7 linked regions of the Homo sapiens genome follow. The protein of the gene in region 6 interacts with the protein of the main gene of each other region in a pairwise test. Each region holds a gene or a part of one and is shown on either strand. Other genes may lie near its edges. The genes, in order: PRKAA2, ASAP3, CINP, EXOSC8, OTUD4, REL and NUDT10.

The links.
Region 1: the proteins of REL (region 6) and PRKAA2 interact in binary tests that used the Homo sapiens proteins (3 or more experiments, as listed by UniProt).
Region 2: the proteins of REL (region 6) and ASAP3 interact in binary tests that used the Homo sapiens proteins (3 or more experiments, as listed by UniProt).
Region 3: the proteins of REL (region 6) and CINP interact in binary tests that used the Homo sapiens proteins (3 or more experiments, as listed by UniProt).
Region 4: the proteins of REL (region 6) and EXOSC8 interact in binary tests that used the Homo sapiens proteins (3 or more experiments, as listed by UniProt).
Region 5: the proteins of REL (region 6) and OTUD4 interact in binary tests that used the Homo sapiens proteins (3 or more experiments, as listed by UniProt).
Region 7: the proteins of REL (region 6) and NUDT10 interact in binary tests that used the Homo sapiens proteins (3 or more experiments, as listed by UniProt).

Annotation. Positions count from the first base shown.
Region 1 is NC_000001.11:56,693,814-56,697,313, reverse strand, and holds part of PRKAA2 (5'-AMP-activated protein kinase catalytic subunit alpha-2), read right to left. Parts: coding exon 3,462-3,500; intron 1,380-3,461; coding exon 1,155-1,379; intron 1-1,154. UniProt on the Homo sapiens protein: Catalytic subunit of AMP-activated protein kinase (AMPK), an energy sensor protein kinase that plays a key role in regulating cellular energy metabolism.
Region 2 is NC_000001.11:23,435,680-23,439,179, forward strand, and holds part of ASAP3 (arf-GAP with SH3 domain, ANK repeat and PH domain-containing protein 3), read right to left. Parts: coding exon 3,482-3,500; intron 3,156-3,481; coding exon 3,068-3,155; intron 1,794-3,067; coding exon 1,745-1,793; intron 1,642-1,744; coding exon 1,451-1,641; intron 1,366-1,450; coding exon 1,232-1,365; intron 976-1,231; coding exon 881-975; intron 350-880; coding exon 172-349; intron 1-171. UniProt on the Homo sapiens protein: Promotes cell proliferation.
Region 3 is NC_000014.9:102,350,337-102,352,890, reverse strand, and holds part of CINP (cyclin-dependent kinase 2-interacting protein), read left to right. Parts: intron 1-2,554. UniProt on the Homo sapiens protein: Component of the DNA replication complex, which interacts with two kinases, CDK2 and CDC7, thereby providing a functional and physical link between CDK2 and CDC7 during firing of the origins of replication.
Region 4 is NC_000013.11:37,003,786-37,006,949, forward strand, and holds part of EXOSC8 (exosome complex component RRP43), read left to right. Parts: intron 1-730; coding exon 731-776; intron 777-2,134; coding exon 2,135-2,240; intron 2,241-2,329; coding exon 2,330-2,375; intron 2,376-3,164. UniProt on the Homo sapiens protein: Non-catalytic component of the RNA exosome complex which has 3'->5' exoribonuclease activity and participates in a multitude of cellular RNA processing and degradation events.
Region 5 is NC_000004.12:145,174,090-145,177,589, reverse strand, and holds part of OTUD4 (OTU domain-containing protein 4), read left to right. Parts: intron 1-2,845; coding exon 2,846-2,929; coding exon of another isoform or gene 2,930-2,950; intron 2,951-3,500.
Region 6 is NC_000002.12:60,888,074-60,891,573, reverse strand, and holds part of REL (proto-oncogene c-Rel), read right to left. Parts: intron 1-3,500. UniProt on the Homo sapiens protein: Proto-oncogene that may play a role in differentiation and lymphopoiesis.
Region 7 is NC_000023.11:51,331,328-51,335,621, reverse strand, and holds the start of NUDT10 (diphosphoinositol polyphosphate phosphohydrolase 3-alpha), read right to left. Parts: upstream 2,801-4,294; 5' UTR 2,657-2,800; coding exon 2,163-2,656; intron 1-2,162. UniProt on the Homo sapiens protein: Cleaves a beta-phosphate from the diphosphate groups in PP-InsP5 (diphosphoinositol pentakisphosphate), suggesting that it may play a role in signal transduction.

The sequences.
Region 1 (3,500 bases), on a different chromosome or scaffold from region 6:
AACGACTCACACTTGTAATCCCAGCACTTTGGGAGGGCAAGGTGGGTGGATTGCTTGAGCCCAGAAGTTCAAGACCAGCCTGGGCAACATGGCAAAACTCCATTTCTACTAAAAATAAAAAAATTAAAAAAAATTAGCTGGGTGTGGTGGCTTGTGCCTATAGTCCCAGCTACTCAGGAGCCTGGGGTGGGAGGAACACCTCAGCTTGGGAGGTTGAGGCTACCTACAGTGAGCTGTGATCACACCACTGCACTCCAGCCTGGGCGACAGAGTGAGACCCTGCCTTAAAAAAAAAAAAAAATTCTTTGCTGGCTAATGATGAAAAGGGGAAAGAGTTCTGGAAAGATGTCAAAAGAACATGTTTGTAAACAAACACGGATGAAATCTTAGGTAAGAAGAAAAAACCTCTAAGAAACATGCCTTGATAAGTCATAGGCAGGATGCAGTGAATCATCTTGCTACTATACACAGGTGTGGGATATACAAAGGTCATATTCATAGGCGCATCAGCAATGGCACTTTCCAAACTTTCTCAAGTGACAAAAAAGCCTTCACAGTAAGCTGACTAGCAGCTATTGAATTCAAAAACTTAGCAAAACTTTTTATGCTTTATGTCTTTAACCATATGTAAAATACAAAATCTCACCCTATTTCTCCATTTGAAATTTCTTCAGACACTTTCTAAGCATACCATCTTTCCAGGCCTTTTAGCATTGTGTAGTCAAAGATGAATAAGACACACTCTCTACCCTGATATCATAATTTAAGAGAGAAAAAAGACACACTGAGAAATAACTAGATACAGGATGAGGATTAAATAATAAAAGCATGAACAAAATGTTGATAAAACAGAAATGGAAGCACGTGTGGAAATCACAAAAGGGGTGGCATGAACTTTAATGGATGAATGGAAGTCTATCAGGTCAAAAAAGAAACAAGAAAAGACATCAAGGCAAAGTGAATAATATAAACAAAGACATGAAGGCATAAAATCTATGTTAGGTTTGAGAAACAAGGACAAGTTCAATGTGGCTGAAGCATGAGTACTGGGGTGAGGTGGTGAGGGCAGGAAATGAGACTTTGGGAGAATCATTTAATTAACATTATTATTCCTATGAGAAAATATGCAGAACAGAAACAAAAAGAAAAATCACCTTATGTCTTTGATAGTTGCTCGTTTCAGTGGGTCAACCTGCAGCATATGCATCAGGAGAGTGGCGACAGAACGATTGAGATATTCTGGGATATAAAAGACACCCCCTCGGATCTTCTTAAATAACGTAGGTACATGCTCATCATCAAATGGGAGGGTGCCACAAAGAAGAGCATACAAGATAACACCACAGCTCCAGATATCAACTTCAGGACCTGCATACAATCTAAGAAAAAAGATGACAACACAAACCTGAAATGCAAGAATCACTTTTTCTCTATGTACCCTACTTCTATATATAGGTAGTCTACATTCAGTACATATTCATTTCCAAGGTCTTTAATGAAGTCCATGGCTGCTCCCCAATATTCAGTGTTTGTTCCCCAAAGAGAGTAATGGGGCTAGCCAACTACTATTCAAGCCTGCCAAGTGAATAGGGTATTTTTATTTGTCACAAATTCATTTAACTGAAACATACGAATTAAAACATATAATACTTTCTGTGGTTGATTTTTGAGGGAAACAAAGTAGATGACCACAAACTTGAAAAAATACTATGGTGTATAGGTTAAATCTTTTTCCCAAAGAACTATTACAAGAAAGAAAACATATATATAATGTATACATATAATAGAATTTCTACCCCTGGCACACCTTTAAAGAATATTAAGGCTGGTCACGGTAGCTCACACCTGTAATCCTAGTACTTTGGGAGGCTGAGGCGGGCGGATTGCTTGAGGCTACGAGTTTGAGGCCAGCCTGGGCAACATGGTGAAACGCTGTTTCTACTAAAAATACAAAAAATAGCCAGGGATGGTGGTGCACATCTTAGTCCCAGCTACTCAGAAGGCTGAGGTGGGAGGATCATCTGAGCCCAGGAGGTGGTACAGTGAGCTGAGATTGTGCCACTGCACTCTAGCCTAGGTGACAGAGCGAGACTCTATCTCAAAACAAAAAATATATATATATATATATATAATATATCATATATATAGAGAGAGAGATATTTAAAACATTAAAGTACTTAATTAGTACTGTGTAGACAGTATTTATCCTGTATCACATTATCCTGAGTACTTACTATTTCTATTCTCATCACTTCCTAACTCATATGACTAAAATCATCTTTGATCCAGATAACCTATGCTTATAGTATTATTCCTTTTTTCTCTTACGTTTCTACAGCATTACAATTCCCATGATAGCATATTACCATACTCAAACCTGGGTCTGAGGTAACAAAGTAAATCTTTACTATTCTAATGAAAAGAATATAATCTGTTTATATAAAAAATGGTGATTGTTTACATCATTTGCTGTATTGTTCAAACTCCTTGCAATGGACTGAATGCTTATGTCCTCTCAAAATTCATGTGTTGAAATCCTAACCCCCAAGGAGATAGTATTAGGAGGTGGGGACTTAAGGGGGGTGATTAGGTCACTAGTGCAGAGTTCTCATGAATGGGATTAGTGCCCTTATAAGAGCGACCCCAGAGAGATCCCTTGTCCCTTTCACCATGTGAAGTTACAGTGAGCATACAGTAGTCTATTAGGAAGCAGACCCTCACCAGATACCAAATCTTGATCTTGGACTTCCCAGACTTCAGAACTGTGAGAAATACATTTCTGTTGTTTATAAGCTATCACCTTTATTGTATCTTTCTTATAGCAGCCCAAATGGACTAAGATAATTCTTTATCTGCTATTTGCAATAATACTTTAACCATATTTTCTCTTATAGGATTCTGTTAACTTTTAAAATCACACGTTGATCACTGTAGAAAGACTTGAGTTTACCACTGCAATCTGTATAAACATTTTTATAATGTACCAATGAATAAGTTATGAGTAACTACACAATCTCTACTTGTGTAATTTCATGAAACAATATTTTCCCCCAAAATCTCATTTTTCCAAACACAAAATATAAAACAATGCTCTATATACTTTGGAAAATATGCAAGGTATTATTAAAGAACTATATCTAATAAATAAATGACACTAGCTTAAATTTAGCAAATTCTTACTCTCTTATCTGCACTTTTGTAAAATGAAAGATATGTTAAATCAGGATCTACTTCAGTTATTTTTCTAATGGGGAAAACTTCGTAAGTATATTTATAATGACATCTAAATGAAATGTTTAACATTTTTTGATATAACCATTATCCCTTTAACAGTGGAAAAATAAATGAATAATCCATTTCTACCATGTTAAAATCTTACCTTCCATAGAGAATATATTGTAATTAAATGTTATCAAAATGAACACAAGATTACAAAAAGCTTATGCTTCACTGATTATTACCTGCCTGAGATGACTTCAGGTGCTGCATAATTTGGAGAT
Region 2 (3,500 bases), on a different chromosome or scaffold from region 6:
CACCCAGGTCTGCCTGACTGAAGCTGTGCTCTTTCCCACTTACCACTCTGATGGGTGAGATCTGAGCAGATGTCAGAGGTGGGGTGGAGGGGAGTAACAGCTGGTCCTGGAGAAGAACTGGGGAATATGTTAGACAGGTGGGTTATAAGTGGCCCTTGGAGGGGTTCTCACCTGTGCATCAGGCCCTGGCAGCGGCTGTCCAAAGTCCTGCCCATTGGCAAAGGCCTCCAGTACCGACAGGAGGTCCCTGTTGCAAATGGCTGTCCAGAGTCGCTGAGGCTCAGGTGTGCACCGGCGTGCAAACCTATGCTCCACATACTTGGCCATAATGTAGTCCCTGCGGGTGCCCCTACCAAAAACAACCACAGGATCTCAGAGCATGGACCGTGTCTGCCCAGCTGATCCCTGGGGCCCTCCCACAGGAGATACAGCTCTCTTTTTCTCCAGAACCATGTCCTGAAGACGTCTAGATCTGAGGCTCCCCTCTCCCCAGGCTTTTTTTTTAGACAGTCTCACTCTATTGCCCAGGAGGGAGTGCAGTGGCGCAATCTCGTTTCACTACAACCTCTGCTTCCAGGGTTCAAGCAATTCTAGTGCCTCAACCTCCTGAGTAGCTGGAATTACAGGCGTGTGCCACCACGCCCAGCTAATTCTTGTATTTTGAGTACAGGCGGGGTTTTGCCATCTTAGCCGGGCTGGTCTCAAATTCCTGACCTCAAGTGATCCGCCCGCCTTGGCCTCCCAAAGTGCTGGGATTACAGGCGTGAGCCACTGCGCCCAGCCTCCCCAGACTTCTGATCCAAGACTTTTCTACGACCCTGGACACTGCGGAGGCAGAATCCCCTAGGCAGGGTGCCCCTCTCTCTGAGAATCCCCTTACATGTCACTCTCAGCTGAGGGTTTAGGGCCGCCGTGTGAGGGTAGCTGGGCCTCCATGACCTCATTGAAGCTCGTGTTTCCCATGTTCAAGGCCAGCTGGAGTCGTAGGAAAATAGACGTGGGGCGGAGTAAGACCGGGCGGTTAAGCCTGCATAGGGTGGAGCTCCAAGCCCCCAGAGTCCCGCCCCTCGGCCGCCCTCCCGGTTCAGGCCCCGCCCCTGACCACCCGCTACCTGGCTTGTCCCAGCCCACCTCGGCCAGGTCCCACCCACAACCTGCAAGCCCCGCCCCCGGATGAAACTACACCCCTAACTCCGCTTCTGGCCCCTTCCAGGCCCCGCCCCGCCCTCACCAACAACTCGGAGGGGCCCAGCAGGTCCAAGGTGAGTGACTGCATGCGCGAAAAGCGCACGCCCAGTTCGCGGTGGACGCCCGAGCACTGGATGCAGGTGAGCACGCCCAGGTTGGTGCTGAGCCACGTGGGGTCTGCAGAGGAAAGCAGCTGGAGCCTGGAGGTGCAGCCCCTCCCCTCCACTTAAGCCTCCCTCCTGCCCCGGCCCCGGGGACCGACCTGCAGCCCCGCAGTCGCAGCACTGGCTATTCCCAGGCCTGCTCTTCACCTCCGCGATGAGCAGCTTTGTGAGGTCGTGCGGCTCCCCATCATGGCCGGCGGACCCCCAGGACCCCGGGCCAGCGCTGGGCTCCCCGAGGAAGGCGCTGCTCAGGGCTTCGTCCTTGCTGTTCTGCAACACTGACACCCACCTGCGGAGATTGAACGGGGTGGGATGGGGATGTCAAGTGGGAAGAGATAGGGCCGCCGGCCCCCACCCACAAGGCTGGCCGGGCTGGCCGAGGGGGCACTCACGCCTCACACTCGTGCTCGTCCTCTGCCTGAAAGTGGTACGTCCGGTTGTCTGTCGGGAGAGAAGGGGGCTTCTGACCCACAGAAATGCTGCTGGCCTTCCCGGAGCCCAGGGAGCCCCCACCAAAGCCGCTGGGGCCACATGGAGATGTGTCCCTGACAAGTCGGACTCTCAAGCTAGGAGTGGGAAGGGAGTGGAATGACAGTGGCCAGCACCAGGGGCAGTTTCTCAGAACTGGCCTCCGAAGTAGGATCCCAACAAAGCTCCCTCTGCGTGAAGCCCTGGTTCCAGGCTCAGACGAGGTCTCAAAGGGCTTGGAACCCCAGAGAACCCAGCTCTGAGGCAGGGCATCCTCTGAACCAACTGTCACCACCCCACTGGGCCCTTCCTGGTCTCCTCCTGGGCGACCAGGCCTCCTGTCTGGTCTCCCTGCTTCCCATTTCCCCTTTCCCCTAGCCTGTACCAGCTCCCAACTGTTGTGCCCAAGGCTCTGCTCTAATTACACCACTGCCCTGCCCCAAGATCTCCCATGGCTCTCTATTGCCAGGAAATAAGGTCCAAACTTTTAAGAGGGATTTCCAGGCCTCATCTCTCACTCTGCTACATGAACCCTCCACTCTGGCCAAACCGGCCAGACCCACTCTCCTGCTTCCATGCCTTTCATCATGCTAATCCTGTCTCCTCAAAAGCCCCCACCCCACAAACTCTTCATTCTACATGTCCTTCAAGGCTAAACTCAAATACTGTCTCCTCCAGGAGCCTTTCCTGATTCCCCACAGCAGTGCAGGCCTTCCTGCTCCCTAATCTTCTATGGGGCTATATCTGCACCCATCTTCTGGACAGCCCCCTCATCTTACAGTCCTGGGTACCCACCCCACACCCCTGCCAGAGAGTTTCCTGAGGACAAGATCTAGGTCTTTCTCAGCCTGTGTCTGCTCTCACACAAAGCCTGCACCAAAGGCTCTGAAGAACGAAAAGTAGAAAATGTAAAGAAACAATAATTTCATCTCCTTCAAGTCTGGGTATTTGGGAAAAAAAGGTAAAATTTTAAAAAAAGAAATAATTTCAAAACCCAGATGACCCAAATCCACTCAAATATGCTCTGTATAAATAGCCACATTTATTATGTAAAGTGGGTGCATTTTGACATTTAATGTGATGTGGGTATCCTAGACCTAAGGATTCTTATGTCTGCAGTAGCAGCAATTCGACACCATGTGTGGAACTGGACACAGACCCCTCACTGAAGCCCCCCGGGAGCTGACAGGTGTCTTAGAGAAGCCCTGAGCAGCTGTGGGTGGGGGAGAGGCACAGGGACCACTCACGGGTCACCAGGTCGAAGCACTTTTTCTCCTCAGGGTTTGGCCTCACTTGGCACGTCAGCAGGGTCAGCTTCACCGGGGGCCGGTTTATCTGTGGGAATTTAGGGGCGGAGGATGTATGCATTACCTCTGGCCCTCCACATTCTTTAGGCCTCCATTTCCCACTCTGTTAAATGGGCATAATCATCCTGTTCCATTTGTGTTTCTCCTCACCCAGCAGCACCTCAAGGATGTGAAGTGTAGACTAAGACTAGATTGGGGCCTTCAGGTCCCATCTGTCCTCCCAAACGGGTCTCCAGCTCCCTGGACCTAGGTTTGGGGGCCAGTCTTAGAGGGAGGGCTTGACATTATTTGCTCAGAACACCAGAAGAAGAGGGTCCATCGTGCCCTGAGACTCCCACCACCTCTAGGCCTCACCGTGCTGTGTGAGATGGTC
Region 3 (2,554 bases), on a different chromosome or scaffold from region 6:
GATCACCTGAGGTCAAGAGTTTGAGACCAGCATGGCCAACATAGTGAAACCCCATCTCTACTAAAAATACAAAAAATTAGCTGGGGGTGGTGGCAGGTGCCTGCAATCCCAGCTACTTGGGAGGCTGAGGCGGGAGAATCACTTTCGGAGGTTGCAGTTAGCCGAGATCAAGCCACTGCACTCCAGTCTGGGCCACAGAGTGAGACTCCGTGTCAAAAAAAAGAAAAAAAGAAAAAGAAAAGTGGTTTGGGAATAAGTTCTCATTCTATGTTCAAAACCAAAAGTTGATTTTATAGGGTATTATTATTTTTCCTATTTTCCTCTATCCGTTATAGAGAATGGTTTCCAGACCTGGTCTGTGTCTTTCATAACTTTGACCTTCTGGGGGTTTCATGCACCGTTCTTCCTAAGCTGGGCTAACATTTCACTGTGGTCTGTGTTTGCTGTGGGAAGAAGCCACCGATGTTGAAATGTAAGGGCCTGCTGTTTATGCACTGTTCATTCAGGGCTGCACGTGCCTATGTGACTTGAATTCTTTATTGATGGCTGAGCTGCAGGATTGAGCATGACTTCTTGCCTGGGGTCAAGGCTCCAGAATTTTCCTTAGTCTCCTGTTATCAGCTTTTCTTAGAATCAGGTGGCACCAGGGAGCTGCTGCAGGACTCACAGGAAAGAGCAGAGGATTGGGTGTTAAAACTTGGTGTCGGCTGGGCGCGGTGGCTCACGCCTGGAATCCCAACACTTTGGGAGGCTGAGGTGGGCGGATCACAAGGTCAGGAGATCGAGACCATCCTGGCTAACACAGTGAAACCCCAGCTCTGCTAAAAGTACCAAAAAAATTAGCCAGGCACAGTGGCGGGCGCCTGTAGTCCCAGCTACTTGGGAGGCTGAGGCAGGAGAATGGCATGAACCCGGGAGGCGGAGGTTGCAGTGAGCGGAGATCGCGCCACTGCACTCCAGCCTGGGTGACAAAGCGAGACTCTGTCTCAAAAAAAACAAAAACAAAAACAAAAACAAAAAAACTTGGTGTCAGAAGGCATGGTATCGAGTTCTGGCCTCATCCTTCCTCAGCTCAACCTTAAGCAATTTCCCAGCTGTGAAACGGAAATGACAAGTCCTGCCTCTTGGGGTTGGGCCAAATAAAATATCAAACCTTAAAAGATTTGGGAAACTACTTAAGTAAAGTCCTTTAAAAATTAACGTTAGCTGAATTTAGTGCTTGCCACTTCCAATGTAATTGGAGGGTGGTTGGAAGGACCAAGTAAAGGAATTAAGATATTTGACAATTTATATATCTTTTCTTATTTCCCCTTTTTCATATTTATGTATGTAAAGTCAACTATACTTAGGAGTTCAAAATTTGGTCTTTATAGACCTATGCTACTTAAATCTGAAATCCTAGTTACTTCACCCATTAATTTTCTTTATCCAACCCTTATATATCTCCAAGTAGGTGCTTCACAAATACTAACTCACTTAATCCTCTTCACCAAGCTGTGAAAGTAAGCCCGCCATTGCCCCTATTCTGTGCTGCCTGGTGTGTGCAGTGGGGTTGGTTTAGTGTCTCCCACAAGTAGCCATACACATCATGCAGTTACAGGGCTTAGGACAGAGCCTGGTCCACACTGAGGGACCGTCAATGGCAGCTTGCCACGTTTCCTTCCTTTCTGCGTGAAGTGTGTAGGGCTCCCTTTCTGTGTTGCCATTTTATAAACAAGGAAGTCAAGGAGGTTTCCGTAAATAAAGGCAGTTAATAAGAGAGAGTCAGGCCTGGTGCGGTGTCTCATGCCTAGAATCCCAGCACTTTGGGCGGCCGAGGTGGGCGGATCACGAGTTCAGGAGATCAAGACCAGCCTGGCCAACATGGTGAAACCCCGTCTCTACTAAAAATACACAAATTAGCTGGGCGTGGTGGCACATGCCTGCAATCCCAGCTACTTGGGAGGCTGAGGCAGGAGAATCGCTTGAACCAGGGAATCAGAGGTTGTAGTGAACCGAGATCTCGCCACTGCACTCCAGCCTGGCACTGCACTCCAGCTTGGCAACAGAGCAAGACTCCGTCTCAAAAAAAAAAAAAAAAAAGAGAGAGAGAGAGAACATCAGAAACGAGCTCATTTGATAGAGAGACAGAGAGCCTCAGAAACGAGCTCATTTGATAAAAGAGAGAGAGAGAGAGCATCAGAAACGAGCTCATTTGATGCCTTTCTCTCTCACTTCTTAAAAGCAGCAAGAGCCAGCCAGGCGCGGTGGCGCATGCCTGTATAATCCCAGCACTTTGGGAGGCTGAGGCGGGAGGATTGCTGGAGCCCAGGAGTTAGAGACCAGCCTGGGCAACATAACGAGACCCTGTCTCCACAAATTAAAAAAAATTAGCTGGGTGTGGTGGTGCACACCTGTGATCCCAGCTACTTGGGAGGCTGAGGTGCCAGCGGTTGAGGCTGCATAAGGCATGATCATGCCACACAGAATGAGACCCTGTCGCAAAAAAAAAAAGAAAAAAAAAAAAAGGCAGCAAGAGCCTGCCTTGGGATTCCTCCAGGTCTTTGGGTCTAAG
Region 4 (3,164 bases), on a different chromosome or scaffold from region 6:
TAAGAGGTTAAATAACTTGCCTGAAGTCTCTCAGCCAGTAAGTATGGCTCTGACATTTGAACTGGCTTAGTAATTGCAGAGCATTTGCTTTTTTTTTTTTTTTTGAGACGGAGTCTTGCTCTGTCGCCCAGGCTGGAGTGCAGTGGCACGATGTCAGCTCACTGCAAGTTCCGTCTCCTGGGTTGAAGTGATTCTCCTGCCTCAGCCTCCCAAGTAGCTGGGATTACAGGCGCCCGCCACCATGCCTGGCTAATTTTTGTATTTTTAGTAGAGACGGGGTTTTGCCATCTTGGCCAGGCTGGTCTCAAACTCCTGACCTCAGGTGATCCGCCCGCCTCTGTGTCCCAAAGTGCTGGGATTACCGGTGTGAGCCACCGCGCCCAGCTGAGCTTTTGCTCTTTACCACTAAAGCAGCAGTTCCTAAATCTTGCTCTATCATCTGGAGAACAAATTAAGATTCTTGGCTAGTAGTTGGGGGCACAAACCCAGTTACTATTTTTTAAAAGATCTCCAGGTAATCTTGCCGAGCAGCACTGTAGTGTAGTCCACTGTACTGTAGTGCCTTCTTATCTTGTAGAGCTATTGTGAGGATCAGCACCAATGTCCGTAGAGGCCCTGACACAATTCCCTAAGCTGATATTTGATAGAGCCTTCCATAACTGATTGCTAAATTGTCTTCATAATTTTTCAGTAGCTTCTTTCAATAGGAAACATTTCTTTGCTACTATAGGAATTTGCAGCACCATCAACAGATGCCCCTGATAAAGGATACGTTGGTAAGTTAAATGGTTTTGTAATTTTAATACAAATACTTTTAACACATTTAATAATTTTTAGTTAAGTCCTAGTTAAGTTGATGTAAAGAAAATTATTCCTAATATTCGGAAATATTTATGAATAAAACAAATTCCTCAAAAGTTTTCCGTGTGTTAGTAAAAGATAGCATAATAGCAGGATATAGAATTTCATAAATTTAACCTTTATCAAACTTGTTTGCTCAATTTTTGTTTATACATTCATAAGTTACTAACCAAGAAAATAGAATTTTGGCTGGGTGTGGTGACTCACACCTATAATACCAGGATTTTGGGAGGCCAAGACAGCAGGATCGCTTCAGCCCAGCAGTTCAAGACCAGCCTGGGAAACAAAGGAGACCCCGTATCTACAAAAAAAATCAAGTTAGCTGGGTGTGCCAGTGCACACCTGTGTCCCAGCTACTTGGGAGGCTGAAGCAGGAGGATTGCTTGAGCCTGGGAGGTTGAGGCTACAATGAACTATAATTGTGTCACTGCATTCAAGCCTGAGTGACAGAGTGAAACCCTGTTTCAAAAGAAAAAAAAAATAGAATGGAATTTTTTTAAGTCAAAGAACTGTCATTGCACACCTTTTGTTTCCATAAAGATTCTTTGCTTTATACAACTGCTATTTTTTTCTTGCCTTGGAACCATCTGTTCTTTATGGTAGGAACCAACATTTTTTTTAAATGAGAAAAACAGTTGGATGTTAGCAGAGGGGCTATATATACTTCAGTTACAGATTGAGGTATTTTGAAAGATACCAGGAAAACTCGTAAAGGATTTAGAATTGAGGTCTAAAATAGATTTTTTAAAAAGGCATATGGGGGAAAAATGTCAGAAAAATAGAAATTTCATGGCTGGGAGTCTTAGAGAGACCAAACAGAATATAACTATAATGTTACAATGTATTCTACTCAGAAGAGCCTGTCCATGGCCACAGTTGCCTTTACTGTGGATTGATAATACCTTTAACACTTCAGTAATCCATAAATTGAAAAGTTTAGGCCGGGCATGGTGGCTCACACCTGTAACCTCAGCACTTTGCGAGGCTGAGGCGGGCGGATCACGAGGTCAGGCGATCGAGACCATCTTGGCCAATATGGTAAAACCCTGTCTACTAAAATACAAAAAATTAGCCGGGCGTGGTGGCGTGTGCCTGTAATCTCAGCTACTTGGGAGGCTGAGGCAAGGAAATCTCTTGAACCTGGGAGGTAGAGGTTGCAGTAAGCTGAGATCGCACCAATGCACTCCAGCCTGGCAACAGAGCAAGACTCCATCTCAAAAAAAAAAAAAAAAAAAAAAAGGTTTAGTTCATAGCTGCAGAGTGTTTCTTTCAGTTCCTAATGTGGATCTACCACCCCTGTGTTCATCGAGATTCCGGTCTGGACCTCCTGGAGAAGAGGCCCAAGTGGCTAGCCAGTTCATTGCAGATGTCATTGAAAAGTAAGAGCACCATGATAAAATTTTATTACAATTCATTTTCAGATAGTTTTGGGCTTTTCATTTACTTTGCTCTTTGTCATTAAATCAAGTTCACAGATAATTCAGAAAGAGGACTTATGCATTTCTCCAGGAAAGGTAAGAGGAATAGAGAAGCTATAAGTTCTTATTAATTCTGAAGGGATTTTTTTTTTGTGGGGGAAAGTGAACAAGGAAATTAAAACCACCAATCAAAGTAGCTTTAAATATGGATGTCTTACAGATTTTAGAGATTCAGTAATTTCTTACTCTATAATTCTCTAAATGAACCATATTGTTTATAAAAAAACAAGTTTGACTAACTTACTGCCTGTCTGGGAGCTACCTTTTAAACTGAAGTAATTTTTTTCCCCCTTAACTTTTAAAGTTCAATCATTTTTTATTCCTTATAGCAGATTATAACATTAATCATGTTAACATATGTTTATGGTGAATCCACACAGTAGATTCCAAAGTCTATTTGAAAATGTAAAACTAGGTTGATTAGAACCTAGAGAGGCTTTCCTACTAGATCATATAAACTGATACATTAGCACTGTAAAACTTAAACATTTCATGTATTATGAGAACGTGCATTTTGAATTTTAGCTAGGGCTTTCAAAACCATCTCCCTTATCTGTAACCTCCCAATGAGAATGGAAATTCCTTCTACATCTGTAGCTCCATTAAGGGAAATGGACATGTTTGTCATTTGTCAGCCTGGCAATCAAAAGCCAGCTTTCACAAAACCTGTCCACTTTCTTCTGGTTTTCTATAGAACTTTAAAAAGGTGAAGCATTTTCTTAAGGTTTTTGAGCCTTGAAAGTTATCTTGCTTGTTTAACCAAGGGTTCTGTGGTTCTTAAGTCTAAGCTAATAGCATGTTCTACCCATTAGAAGACTTTAATTT
Region 5 (3,500 bases), on a different chromosome or scaffold from region 6:
TATCTTGTCCCAAGTAAAAATGGGAAAGCCTTCTAGTTTGCTTTCATGTATATATTAATTTGCAGAGATATTTGTCATACTACTTTAATTCTTTCGAAGTGTTATCAACCTTGCACAATAATTTACATTTTAGACAGTTGTCATTTAACCTTGCTTTTCTTGCAGTGCTTGACTTTGTGAATTACCAGCACTCTCACACTTTATAGAAGTTGCTAAGAGTTTTGCTTCTGAGCAACAGGTTCAGATAGATTGTATGTGCCAAAATCTTTGTTAAAAGAGAAGAACCAGTAGATATGCCTACCATTGCTTTTGATTGAAAATAAGCTTTACTAACTTATGTTTGCCACCTGTTGCTAGGTAAATGGCTTTAAGACTAGCTCCACGTTGCTAATGGCAGAGGAAAGCCCTATCAGATGACACTGTGGTTTATTCATACGAGTAATACCTTGATTCATGATAGTGTCTAACATAGCTTCTGTGAAAGAAGTGTTGCTAAATGTCATTTGTTGAATTGGCAAAAAAATTCTACGGTGGTTATTTTTATATATAGATAGTCCTTTTTGGTCACATACTCTTAGAATATATAAGAATATAGTTTAATAGTGTCCAAGAACAGCAGTGAAGGTAGAATCAGTTAAACTGAAAACCAGTTATTACACTGAAAACAAACTAATTGCTAACCTCAACAGGTGCATTTTCAGTGTATCTCAGCGTAATAGGACATACTAGGCGTCCAGGCAGTTGTGCCGGTTCTGTGGGTATAAATGAGCCTTGGTTGTGATCCAAGAGAGCTGTAGAATGCACAGCTGGAGCCTCCCTTTTCCCAAATGCTCTACTCATGCTAAACGTAAAGGGAGAACCACTCAATTGGATCTGTAACTTTTTTTTTTTGAGACAGAGTCTTACTCTGTCACTCAGGCTGGAGTGCCCTGGCACGATCTCGGCTCACTGCAACCTCTGCCTCCTGGTTTCAAGCCATTCTCCTGCCTCAGCCTCCCAGGTAGCTGGGACTACAGGCACGCACCACCACACCTGGCTAATTTTTTTTTTTTTTTTGTATTTTTTAGTAGAGATGGGGTTTTCACCATGTTGACCAGGCTAGTCTCAAACTCCTGACCTCAGGGGACCCACCCTCCTCGGCCTCCCAAAGTGCTGGGATTACAGGCGTGAGCCACAGTGCCCGGCCAGGATCTGTAACTTTTAAAGATACTTTCTATTAATATAAATTCTCAAGAGGCCTTGATGGTAGTTTGAAATGTGTTACTTTAAGTGTGTCTGAGTTTTTTTTTTTTAAACCATAACCCTTTACGGTACAGGAATATCTTTATTTGAGATACCCAGTAATAGAAAAGAATTTTAATCTCCTTTAAGCATGTTAAATAATTGGGAGCTAGGGCCGGGCGTGGTGGCTCATGTCTGTAATCCCAGCACTTTGAGAGGCCCAGGCGGGCAGATCACCTGAGGTCAGGAGTTTGAGACCACCCTGCCCAACATGGTGAAACCCTGTCTCTACTAAAAATAGAAAAATGAGCCGGAAAAAAAAAAAAGAAAGAAAGAAAAATTAGCCGGACATGGCAGCTCCTGTAATCCGGCTACTCGGGAGGCTGAGGCAGGAGAATCGCTTGAACTTGTGAGGCGGAGGTTGCGGTGAGCTGAGATTGCACCACTGCACTCCAGCCTGGTGGGGGAAAAAAGAATTGGGAGCTAGCTAGAAGGAAGCATTGGATAAGAAATAGTTGTTTCAGGCTGGGCACAGTGGCTCATGCCTGTTGTAATCCCAGCACATTGGGAGGTCGAGGTGGGCGGATCACGAGGTCAGGAGTTTGAGACCAGCCTGGCCAAGATGGTGAAACCCTGTCTCTACTAAAAATACAAAAATTAGCCAAGCGCCGTGGTAGTTGGCTGTAATCCCAGCTACTCAGGAGGCTGAGGCAGGAAGATCGCTTGAACCTGGGAGGTGAAGGTTGCAGAGAGCCAAGCTTGCGCCACTGCACTCTAGCCTGGGTGACAGAGCAGGACTCCGTCTCAAAAAAAAAAAAAGAAATAGTTGTTTCAATTCACAGCTTTAGAATTTTGGTAAAAGACCACATGCCAGTAAGTTATCTTTTTGTTGAACTGGTTGTTTAATAGAAGAAAATGTAAACTGCAGAGTGAGAGGATCTGGATCATACTTTGTAGGTTGGTACTTTACAATTTAGGGCATAAAAACAAACCCCAAACCTCTTGGGATGATACCACACAACATTTTTGCACCCCCTATGCTGCCTACTTGGATGTTCTTTCTTGTCTTATAAGCTTGATCACCAAGGAAAGAATGAGTGCCTTAATTTTTCTGAAACCATAGTGGACTTAAATTTTTACACAGAGCCTCTAAGTGGATTCAGAATTAATGGGAAAAATAAATCGGCCTCTTACAGGCTGAAAGCCTCAAAATACATTCCTACAGAAGTTGCCAGTTTGTCTTTTTCAATATGTATAGGATGAAGTTGAGCGTGGCGTAGCATGGATTTTGTTAGCTCTTCTTTGTGAAGAGTAAAGTTATTGTGGAGGGAAGGCCAAGGGAAGAGAGTGTCCTAAATTTACAAAAATGTCCTAAAGGAGAAAGGCTAATAAATTCTTTACAAATTTGGCTTAAGAAGTAGTATTGTTTGTATATGTCATGTCTTCGCTGTGCTTAGTTAGAAGAAGAGGTAGGAATGAGTAAAGATATCGAAATTATAGAAAGGGAAATGGAGAAAGACTGATAATCTATTGGTTGTCAGATTATTTTGGGTGTAAAAGAAGACATTAGGTTGTAACTTTTAACTAAATGCTTAATAGTGTGTTTGTTGCCTTTTCTTTTTAGGTATTGCACTCTCAGTCTCGCCATGTTGAAGTCAGAATGGCCTGTATTCACTATCTTCGAGAGAACAGAGAGAAATTTGAAGCGGTAACTTGTAATTTCAAACATGTAATGGTGTCTTGACTTGGTTTTACATTTTGGCTTTTAGAAGTGTTCTAGTAGAATTTCACAGGCTGGATCTTAATGCGGGTTATGAAAATAACACTTATTAAAAAAACTTCTCTATTGAACTTAATCTAGTTATATTCAGTTATGTTGTTTTCTAGGCTATTTTATGTTTTGCATTTATTTGGACATTTAGAAAGCTACTATGATGGATAAGACGCTGAGCTGTGGGGGATGGAAAGATGACCTGGACAAGGCCCTTGCATACTAAGAGTGGGCTTTGTCTGACATGGTCAGGGAATTGGGGGTGTTGTGATTAATAGTGGTTTCTGTGATGGGTAACTCCCTATAAATTAAAAGAAAAAAAATTCAGTCTGGGCATGGTGGCTCACACCTGTAATCCCAGTACTTTGGGAGGTGAAGAGTTCAAGACCAGCTTGGCCAACATGGCAAAACTCTGTGTCTACTAAAAGTAGTGGCATGGTGGCACATGCCTGAGTCCCAGCTACTCTTGAGTCTGAGGCACGAGGATTGCTCGAACCCAGGAGGCAGA
Region 6 (3,500 bases):
CCTCCTAACATTAAATAACAAGACCGAAATGTTATCTTGGAGATTGGCTGGGAGAGGCACCTTTTTTTCCCATTCAAATTGAGTCCCTATGTAGTGTCAAAACAAGTCATTCAAACCATATTGACTGGTTAGCACTTTATAGCTTAATATCTATAGCTAACGTCAATATGAAGTTCTGAGATAACCACTTCAGAGATATCTGCCTCCCACGTGAGACCTAGCAGAAGGGTTTCCCCCAAGATTCCCCAAGAAGGGTAAAGAAGGCAGTATTCAGAAGTAAAATATCACACTCCTAAAGTGAGTTAAATATATTTAACTGCTTGATTTTACATCATATTCATAATACTGAATGAAAAGACCATTCACTGAAAATGAAAATGCATTTAAATCCTTGCAGAAGCATATGTAAGTTTTTTATATCTCCATTCAAATATTAAAGGACTTACACACAGTATATCAAAACAAGCCCCAGGAGGGACTTTAGGCTCAAAGAATGTGCAATCAGTCCCATGCAAACCTTTTCTAAAGACATAATAGAGAAAAAAAAGTATTCACTTTCTATAATAACTAAAATTCAAAATATGCATCTGCAGAATGAACTGCTGCTACATATAATAACATGGACGACTCTCAAAATGATTATGCTGAGTGAAAGAAGTTAGACCAGAAGAGCACATACTGTATGATTCCATTTATATGAAACCCTAGGATATGTAAAGTAATATACAATGAACGATAGCAGATCACTGGTTGCCTAAGAACAGGGATATATGGTGGATAGGAAAGGCAGGGGGGACATTATCTTGTGATGATGATTCCAGGGTTGTATACATATGTCAAAACTTGTCAAATTGCATACTTTAAAAGTACAGTTTGTTGTACATAAATTATATGTCAATAAAGCTATTTAAAATGTATGCAACTTTACTTTTATTATCCAAATTGTGGGGGAAAAGGTAAATAGACACTCAACTGTACTTGCAAGTAGGGGAGTTAATAGGGGTGTGAAGATGTTTTCCATTAAAAAATAATAATAATGTGTCCCTTAATCACTTTAGTGCTGACTAAGGCTTATCCTGTTAGAACGCAAGCAATCCTGAGAAATGGTAACACAGTGGGCCTTATCAGAACAGTATGGAGAAGAGGCCTTTAGAATCCTACCCCAGCTACTTCTTAACAGTAAGACCAAGGAAATGTGATTAAAATTAAAAATCTCTTAGTTTCCTCCTCTGTAAAATAGGAATAATCATAATAGCACCTACCTCATTGGGTTGTTGTGAAGATGACAGATTATATGTGCTAAATTCTTACGAAGTGTCATATATACATACACATTCAATAAATGTTGTCTACGTGAAAAAATGCTCATCATCACTGGCCATCAGAGAAATGCAAATCAAAACCACAATGAGATACCATCTTACACCAGTTAGAATGGCGATCATTAAAAAGTCAGGAAACAACAGGTGCTGGAGAGGATGTGAAGAAATAGGAACACTTTTACACAGTTGGTGGGACTGTAAGCTAGTTCAACCATTGTGGAAGTCAGTGTGGCGATTCCTCAGGGATCTAGAACTAGAAATACCATTTTACCCAGCCATCCCATTACTGGGTATATACCCAAAAGATTATAAATCATGCTGCTATAAAGACACATGCACAAGTATGTTTATTGCGGCACTCTTCACAATAGCAAAGACTTGGAACCAACCCAAATGTCCAACAATGATAGACTGGATTAAGAAAATGTGGCACATATACACCATGGAATACTATGCAGCCATAAAAAAGGATAAGCTCATGTCCTTTGTAGGGACATAGATGAAGCTGGAAACTATCGTGAGGACAAAAAAACCAAACACCGCATGTTCTCACTCATGGGTGGGAATTGATCAATGAGAACACATGGACACAGGAAGGGGAACATCACACACCAGGGCCTGTTGTGGGGTGGGGGAAGGGGGGAGGGAAAGCATTAGGAGATATACCTAATGTTAAATGACAAGTTAATGGGTGCAGCACACCAACATGGCACATGTATACATATGTAACAAAGCCGCACGATGTGTACATGTACCCTAAAACTTAAAGTGTAAAAAAATAAAAAATAAAAAAAAATGGTGTCTATTATTTCAGATGCTTTCTTGAAAACAATGATTTAGTGATACTATGGTGGTATCCCAACTGTCACTCTAAAGGACCTTATAGAAGAGCAAGGCAAACAACATATATTATTAGACTACAGAAGGAAGGAAAGCACTAACAAAATTCTGCGGAAATAAGAGCGAAAGAGTCAGGAATGCCCAACTGTGTCAGTGGAAAAAGAGCGGTTAATGAAGCAAAAGAGCGGAGGAAATGAAGAGGAAAAAGGTAGGTATTCTAGGGAAAAGGGAACAGTGTGTCCACAGAGGAGGGTTTATTTAAGAATCACCAATGTAAATGGAACACACTTTCTCTCTTAAAAAGAGAACTAAAAGTCAGAGCACACTTGGCAATGTGGATTTCATTTTATGTGTGATGAAATCAATGAATATTTTGATGCAGGCAAATCACATGATCAGATTTGCATTTTAGAGTAAAAGTTTTAGTCACAGTGAACAGATAGAAAAAAGAAAGCAATGTCATCAGTTTAGAGACCACTATAATAATGTGGGCAATGATGAGGGTATCTCTGATATATGGCAGTGATAAGATGAATGAAGGATTATTTAAAAGATAAAATTGACAGCACCTGGTGCCTGAACAGTAGGGTTAAGAGAAATTAAAGAATCACTGATAGCTCAGAAATTAAAGAATCATTGATGATTCCATGGCTTCTACTTTGGGTTACTGAATAAAGTATTACTGTAACTTTCAATTTTATTCTGTATGGTGTAAACTCCCTGTGTTTGAATCTACTACCTATTTGTTTATTCAGAAGATGAAGAGCCAGAGAAAACTGACTTTAACCTAAACAAGTTCATAATCCTTATTTCAGTTTTACTCAAAAACATAAGATATGCAGATGAGTATTTCACGATTTTATCCTTGCATATTTTAAAGATTTCAAATTCACATTGCAATTTCAAATATTTCATACCCTTATATATCCTTGTAGGAGTATTTAAGAAAGTATATTTTCCTCTTAAAAACTGTTAAAATCAACATTACTTTTTAAGTCACATTTTAAATAATTTATGTGGCTGAAGTAAAGGCCAAATAAATCCCTGCCCACTACTTATTTAAAGGTGTCTTGGTGGGAAACTGATATAAAATGACATCGTTAATGATAAGTGTTTAACTTTGGGAAGAGAGAGTGTGAATAAAACTGCTAGGTTCATAGTGAGCATTCAAATATTTCACTGAGGCTGGGCATGGTGGCTCATACCTGTAATCCCAGCACTTTGGGAGGCCAAAGTGGGTGGATCACTTGAGGTCAGGAGTTCCAGACCAGCCTGGAAAACATGGTGAAACCCCATCTCTACTAAAAATACAAAAAATTAGCGGGATGTGGTGGCAGG
Region 7 (4,294 bases), on a different chromosome or scaffold from region 6:
GTTGCTGTTTCTTTACAAGCTCTTACACATACACACTTCAATTTTTATCAATTTTCTACAGGACTTAAAAATATTTATGGCCACCTTTCACCCCTTTCAGGGTTACTTCTTTCAAAGGTGACCTGATCAACAGAACATAGGTTTCTTAGAAAATATGTTAACCATCCAGAGCAAATTCTGTATCAAGCAACCAAACTTACCTTTACTCCAACATGTCGTCTTCAAATTTTTTTTAGAATAAGAAAAAGTAGGCACTTGTCCATTGGGGGACAGGGACGAGGGGGAAAATCAGTCTTTTTTTTTTTTTTTTTTTTTTGAGACGGTCGCCCAGGCTGGAGTGCAGTGGCACGATCTCGGCTCGCTGCAACCTCCGCCTCCCGGGATCAAGCGATTCTCCTACCTCAGCCTCCCGAGTAGCTGGGATTACAGGCGCACACCACGATGCCCAGCTAGTTTTTGTATTTTTAGTAGAGACGGGGTTTCACCATGCTGGCCAGGCTGATCTTGATCTCCTAACCTCGTTATCTGCCCGCCTCGGCCTTCCAAAGTGCTGGGATTACAGGCGTGAGCCACCGCGCCCGGTCCCCCAGCCCCCACCCATACTCTCTTCAAAAACTAGACATTTCCTCAACTGTCATGGGAGATGAAATCCAGAAGAGGAACCTAGAATTTACATAGCGAAACCCAAAATTTCTTAATAGAAAGTGCGTAACAGTGACCCATAGAACAAGACTCCATCTCAAAAAAAAAAGTTAAGGGACCCCAATACCTGTCAATAATGTTTAAGAGATATGACATAGTCTAGGTTGCTCTAGAAATTAGGAATGATCTTTTCATTCGAATACCCTCTTCACAAAATAGGTTTTCCTTCTACCTAATGTCAGACATGGCTGGGGGAACAGCGGAAGGTCCAGAAGAGAGATTTAGCTATTCTAGATGGGATTCCTGACTTCAAGCAAGTACTGAGGCAAACGTGAGAGCTTTTAATTTGGCACCCAGAAAAGGTGGTACTGTGAGACAAAACAATTACTCTCTATCATTGAGAGATTGTTCAGGAATCCTAATAGTTTGACAATTCTGTACCAGCTGAACATCGCTAGAGCTAACTCTGTTGGGATGTAATCACCACAAAAGATTCCATTCCTGTGGTTACTGGGAGTCAGGGAGGTTAAGCGGAATGTCACTACATTCAAATATGGAATGGAAACCACTTTCTTTCAAAAACAAACTTAAATCCAGAGAACCATGGTTCTTCTATGGTATCCAGTAAGGGGCAATGGGAGTTGGAAGTTGAGTATGGGAAATCAAATTCTGTGAATACAGTTTTTCTGATCAGATGCGTTTGGCTAGCAGATCCCCAGCAGCATCTATTCAGTAAGGTTAATCTACATGGGAAATAGCGATTTAAAGTCAGCAGTGAAAAATTACTTGTGAAAATTTTTTGAAAACCAAATGACCTACATAGAAATAGAAAAAGAAATTTCTGAAAGGGGCAAATGAGATACCACTTCAGAGGCTAGAGCGACTGTCGAGTGCAGAAAGAGCACAAGATGTAGGATTTCCTAATGTTTTTACGAATTCAAAACTGATTTTTTAAACCAACTCCCACCACAGAAGGCCTCCCTGACAACAAGGGCGAACGCTGTGAAGGAGAAAACAACTCAAGGGAAAAAAATACTAAAAGATGCCACACAACCAAGCTGGTCAGACTTTAAAGGCCTCCACTACCAAACAAACCACAAGGCTGGTATCAAAAATGTGCACGCACCCACGAATATGTGTGAAATATAAAAGAACCAAAAACATCACAGGGCGCACAGGCAGACACACACACTCCCCGCCCACCCCTCGCCCCCCACCCCCCCCCCCCCCGCCCAAAAGCAGGGTGAACAGTTACAGCACCTAAAACCCCAAGCGGCATAGGCTTCTCCGAAACATTTTACAGGGTAACCAAGAAGCGATTTTGAAAGCAACTGAAAAACGTGCCAACTGAAAACAGGGCCTGGCAACAGTTTGCAAGCGTGATTCAGAGGGTCTGCCAAGGAAACAAAAGCCTCCCTCCTGCCCATGAGACCGCACATGGTACGAGAGGTGCTCCAGGCGGGATGCATTTTAAGCAAGGCAGACAAACAGAAGTCTGTGCGGGCGCAAGCGGTACATACTAGGGATCGCTATCTGGCGAGGATGGGGCCATGGAGTTTCCATTGGTTGGGGAACCGCCCAGCTTTAGTTTCTCCAGATATTCGGCGTGCACGGGCTTGTGGCACTGGAGAACCTTGATGGCATCTTCGACTTTGAACCACTCTCGCTTCCTCCCAATGCTAACCGAATCTTCCCAATCCTCCAGCAGCTCCGTGACAGTCAGTACATACACGTACGTTCTGTGCTTGGGGTCCTGGTTCTGTTCGAAGACGCCCAGGAGCCGGCCTAACTTCCCCTTGACTCCCGCCTCTTCGTACACCTCTCGGACCGCCGCACCGCCCGGCTCCTCCTCGGGCTCCATGCCCCCGCCCGGCACGATCCAGCGGTCCGGGTACCGGCTGCTACTCACTAACAGGACCTCGTCCTCGCGCTCGCTCCGGAAGCACAGGCACGCCGCCCGCTTCTTGAACCCCTCGGGGTCGTAGGTCCGTGTCTGGTTGGGTTTGCACTTCATCCTCGAGGCAGCCTCCTCTCGCCTCTCGCTGCTGTGTGGGCCGCCGACGCAGCTGCTGCCGCTGCCGGGCAGCAGCCGAGGTGCTGGGAAGAGAAAGGGCCGAGGAGAGGGGCGGGGAGAGAGAGGCGCCTCCGTCTGCCGTCTGCCCCCGAGCCCGGGGAGCGGAGGGAGAGATGAAGCTGGGCGGGGCACGGGCGGAGGCGGGGGCAAGCGAGGCGTGTCAGTCAGCCAGTCCGCCAGTCCGATGGGCGGCCGGCCGAACCCGGGCCCGCCGGAGTGGAGGAGGCGCTGCTGCCCGCGAGCCCGCGACTCTCCACAGAGCCCACCCGCTTCTGCGAGGTGAAGCGCATTCTCGGGCGCGTCCGCGCTCCCGTTCACGTGCGCGTTCGCAGGGGAGGGCGTGGGCTGAGGGGCGAGGAACCGGGGCGAGGGGCCAGGGGCGGGGGTCTCCTGGCTCCCGCAGCGCGCAACGCCTGGGGCCCACTGCGCAGGCGCTTCGCACTCCTGGGGCCAGGAACCTCCTTGGCGCACAGCGAAATTCACCGCATTGTGACTTTGGCCAAGACTGCCTCCATGTGTGCCTTTGACCCAAACTCACTGTGGCACGGCAGGACGTTTCTCCTCTCACTCCCCACTGCGCTGCAGGAAACCCACAGGCAGTTGTTTCACACAAGACAGGGGCAAAGGCAGCGTCGTCATCATCCTCCCCCACTATCAACCATTCTGGCTTACTCATGGGACCTGGGCCCTAGTGTTGTCTGCACAACCCACGGGATTCTTGGCACAGTAGCCGGGCATCTTTGCTGAGTCACATGATGCAGTTTTATTTCTTCAACAGGTTCCCACCTTGCAGAGCATCTTGGCGCAGCCAGTAATTTAACGCTTTTCTTAAACCCCTGTTCACAACCTGCCTGACCTCCCTGCACCTCAGTTTCCTCATGGGTACACTCCTCGCCTCCGTGTTGCAGCCATTTGCACTTCGATGCAGTACACCTTAAAGACCAGAGCACCACCCATCTAGTAGTCCTGCGTTAAAGCCCAGAGACGTTCTCCTATTCTCCACACACTCCACCCTTCTCTATCTTTCTCTTTGATAAGCACCACTTGGTGTTTGGGAAACCATGCACATGGAGATCCCGTCCTATTTCACAATTTTATTTTATTTTATTTTTTGAGATGGAGTCTCACTCTGTCGCTCTGTCGCCCAGGCTGGAGTGCCGTGGCACGATCTTAGCTCACTGCAACCTTCGCCTCCTGGGTTCAAGCGATCCTCCTGCCTCAGCCTCCTGAGTAGCTGGGATTACAGGCGGGTGCCATCACGCCTGGCTAATTTTTGTAGCTTTAGAAGAGACGGGTTTCACCATGTTGGTCAGGCTGCTCTTGAACTCCTAACCTCGCGATCCGCCCACCTCGGCCTCCCAAAGTGTACTATTAACCACCACAAAACAAATAAAATACTAAGGGGTCCTAAAAATGTGGTTAGGACTTAGTAGTACAAAATGGTTGAACTTCTACTCAGAGCTTTGAAACATGATTTGAATGAATCACGAGACACTCTAGCAAAACTAGCAGACTAGTGGGGTGTCTGGGTTCGAGAGGGGCCAATCCAGGCTCCGGCCACAGGGCAGGGCTGCTTCA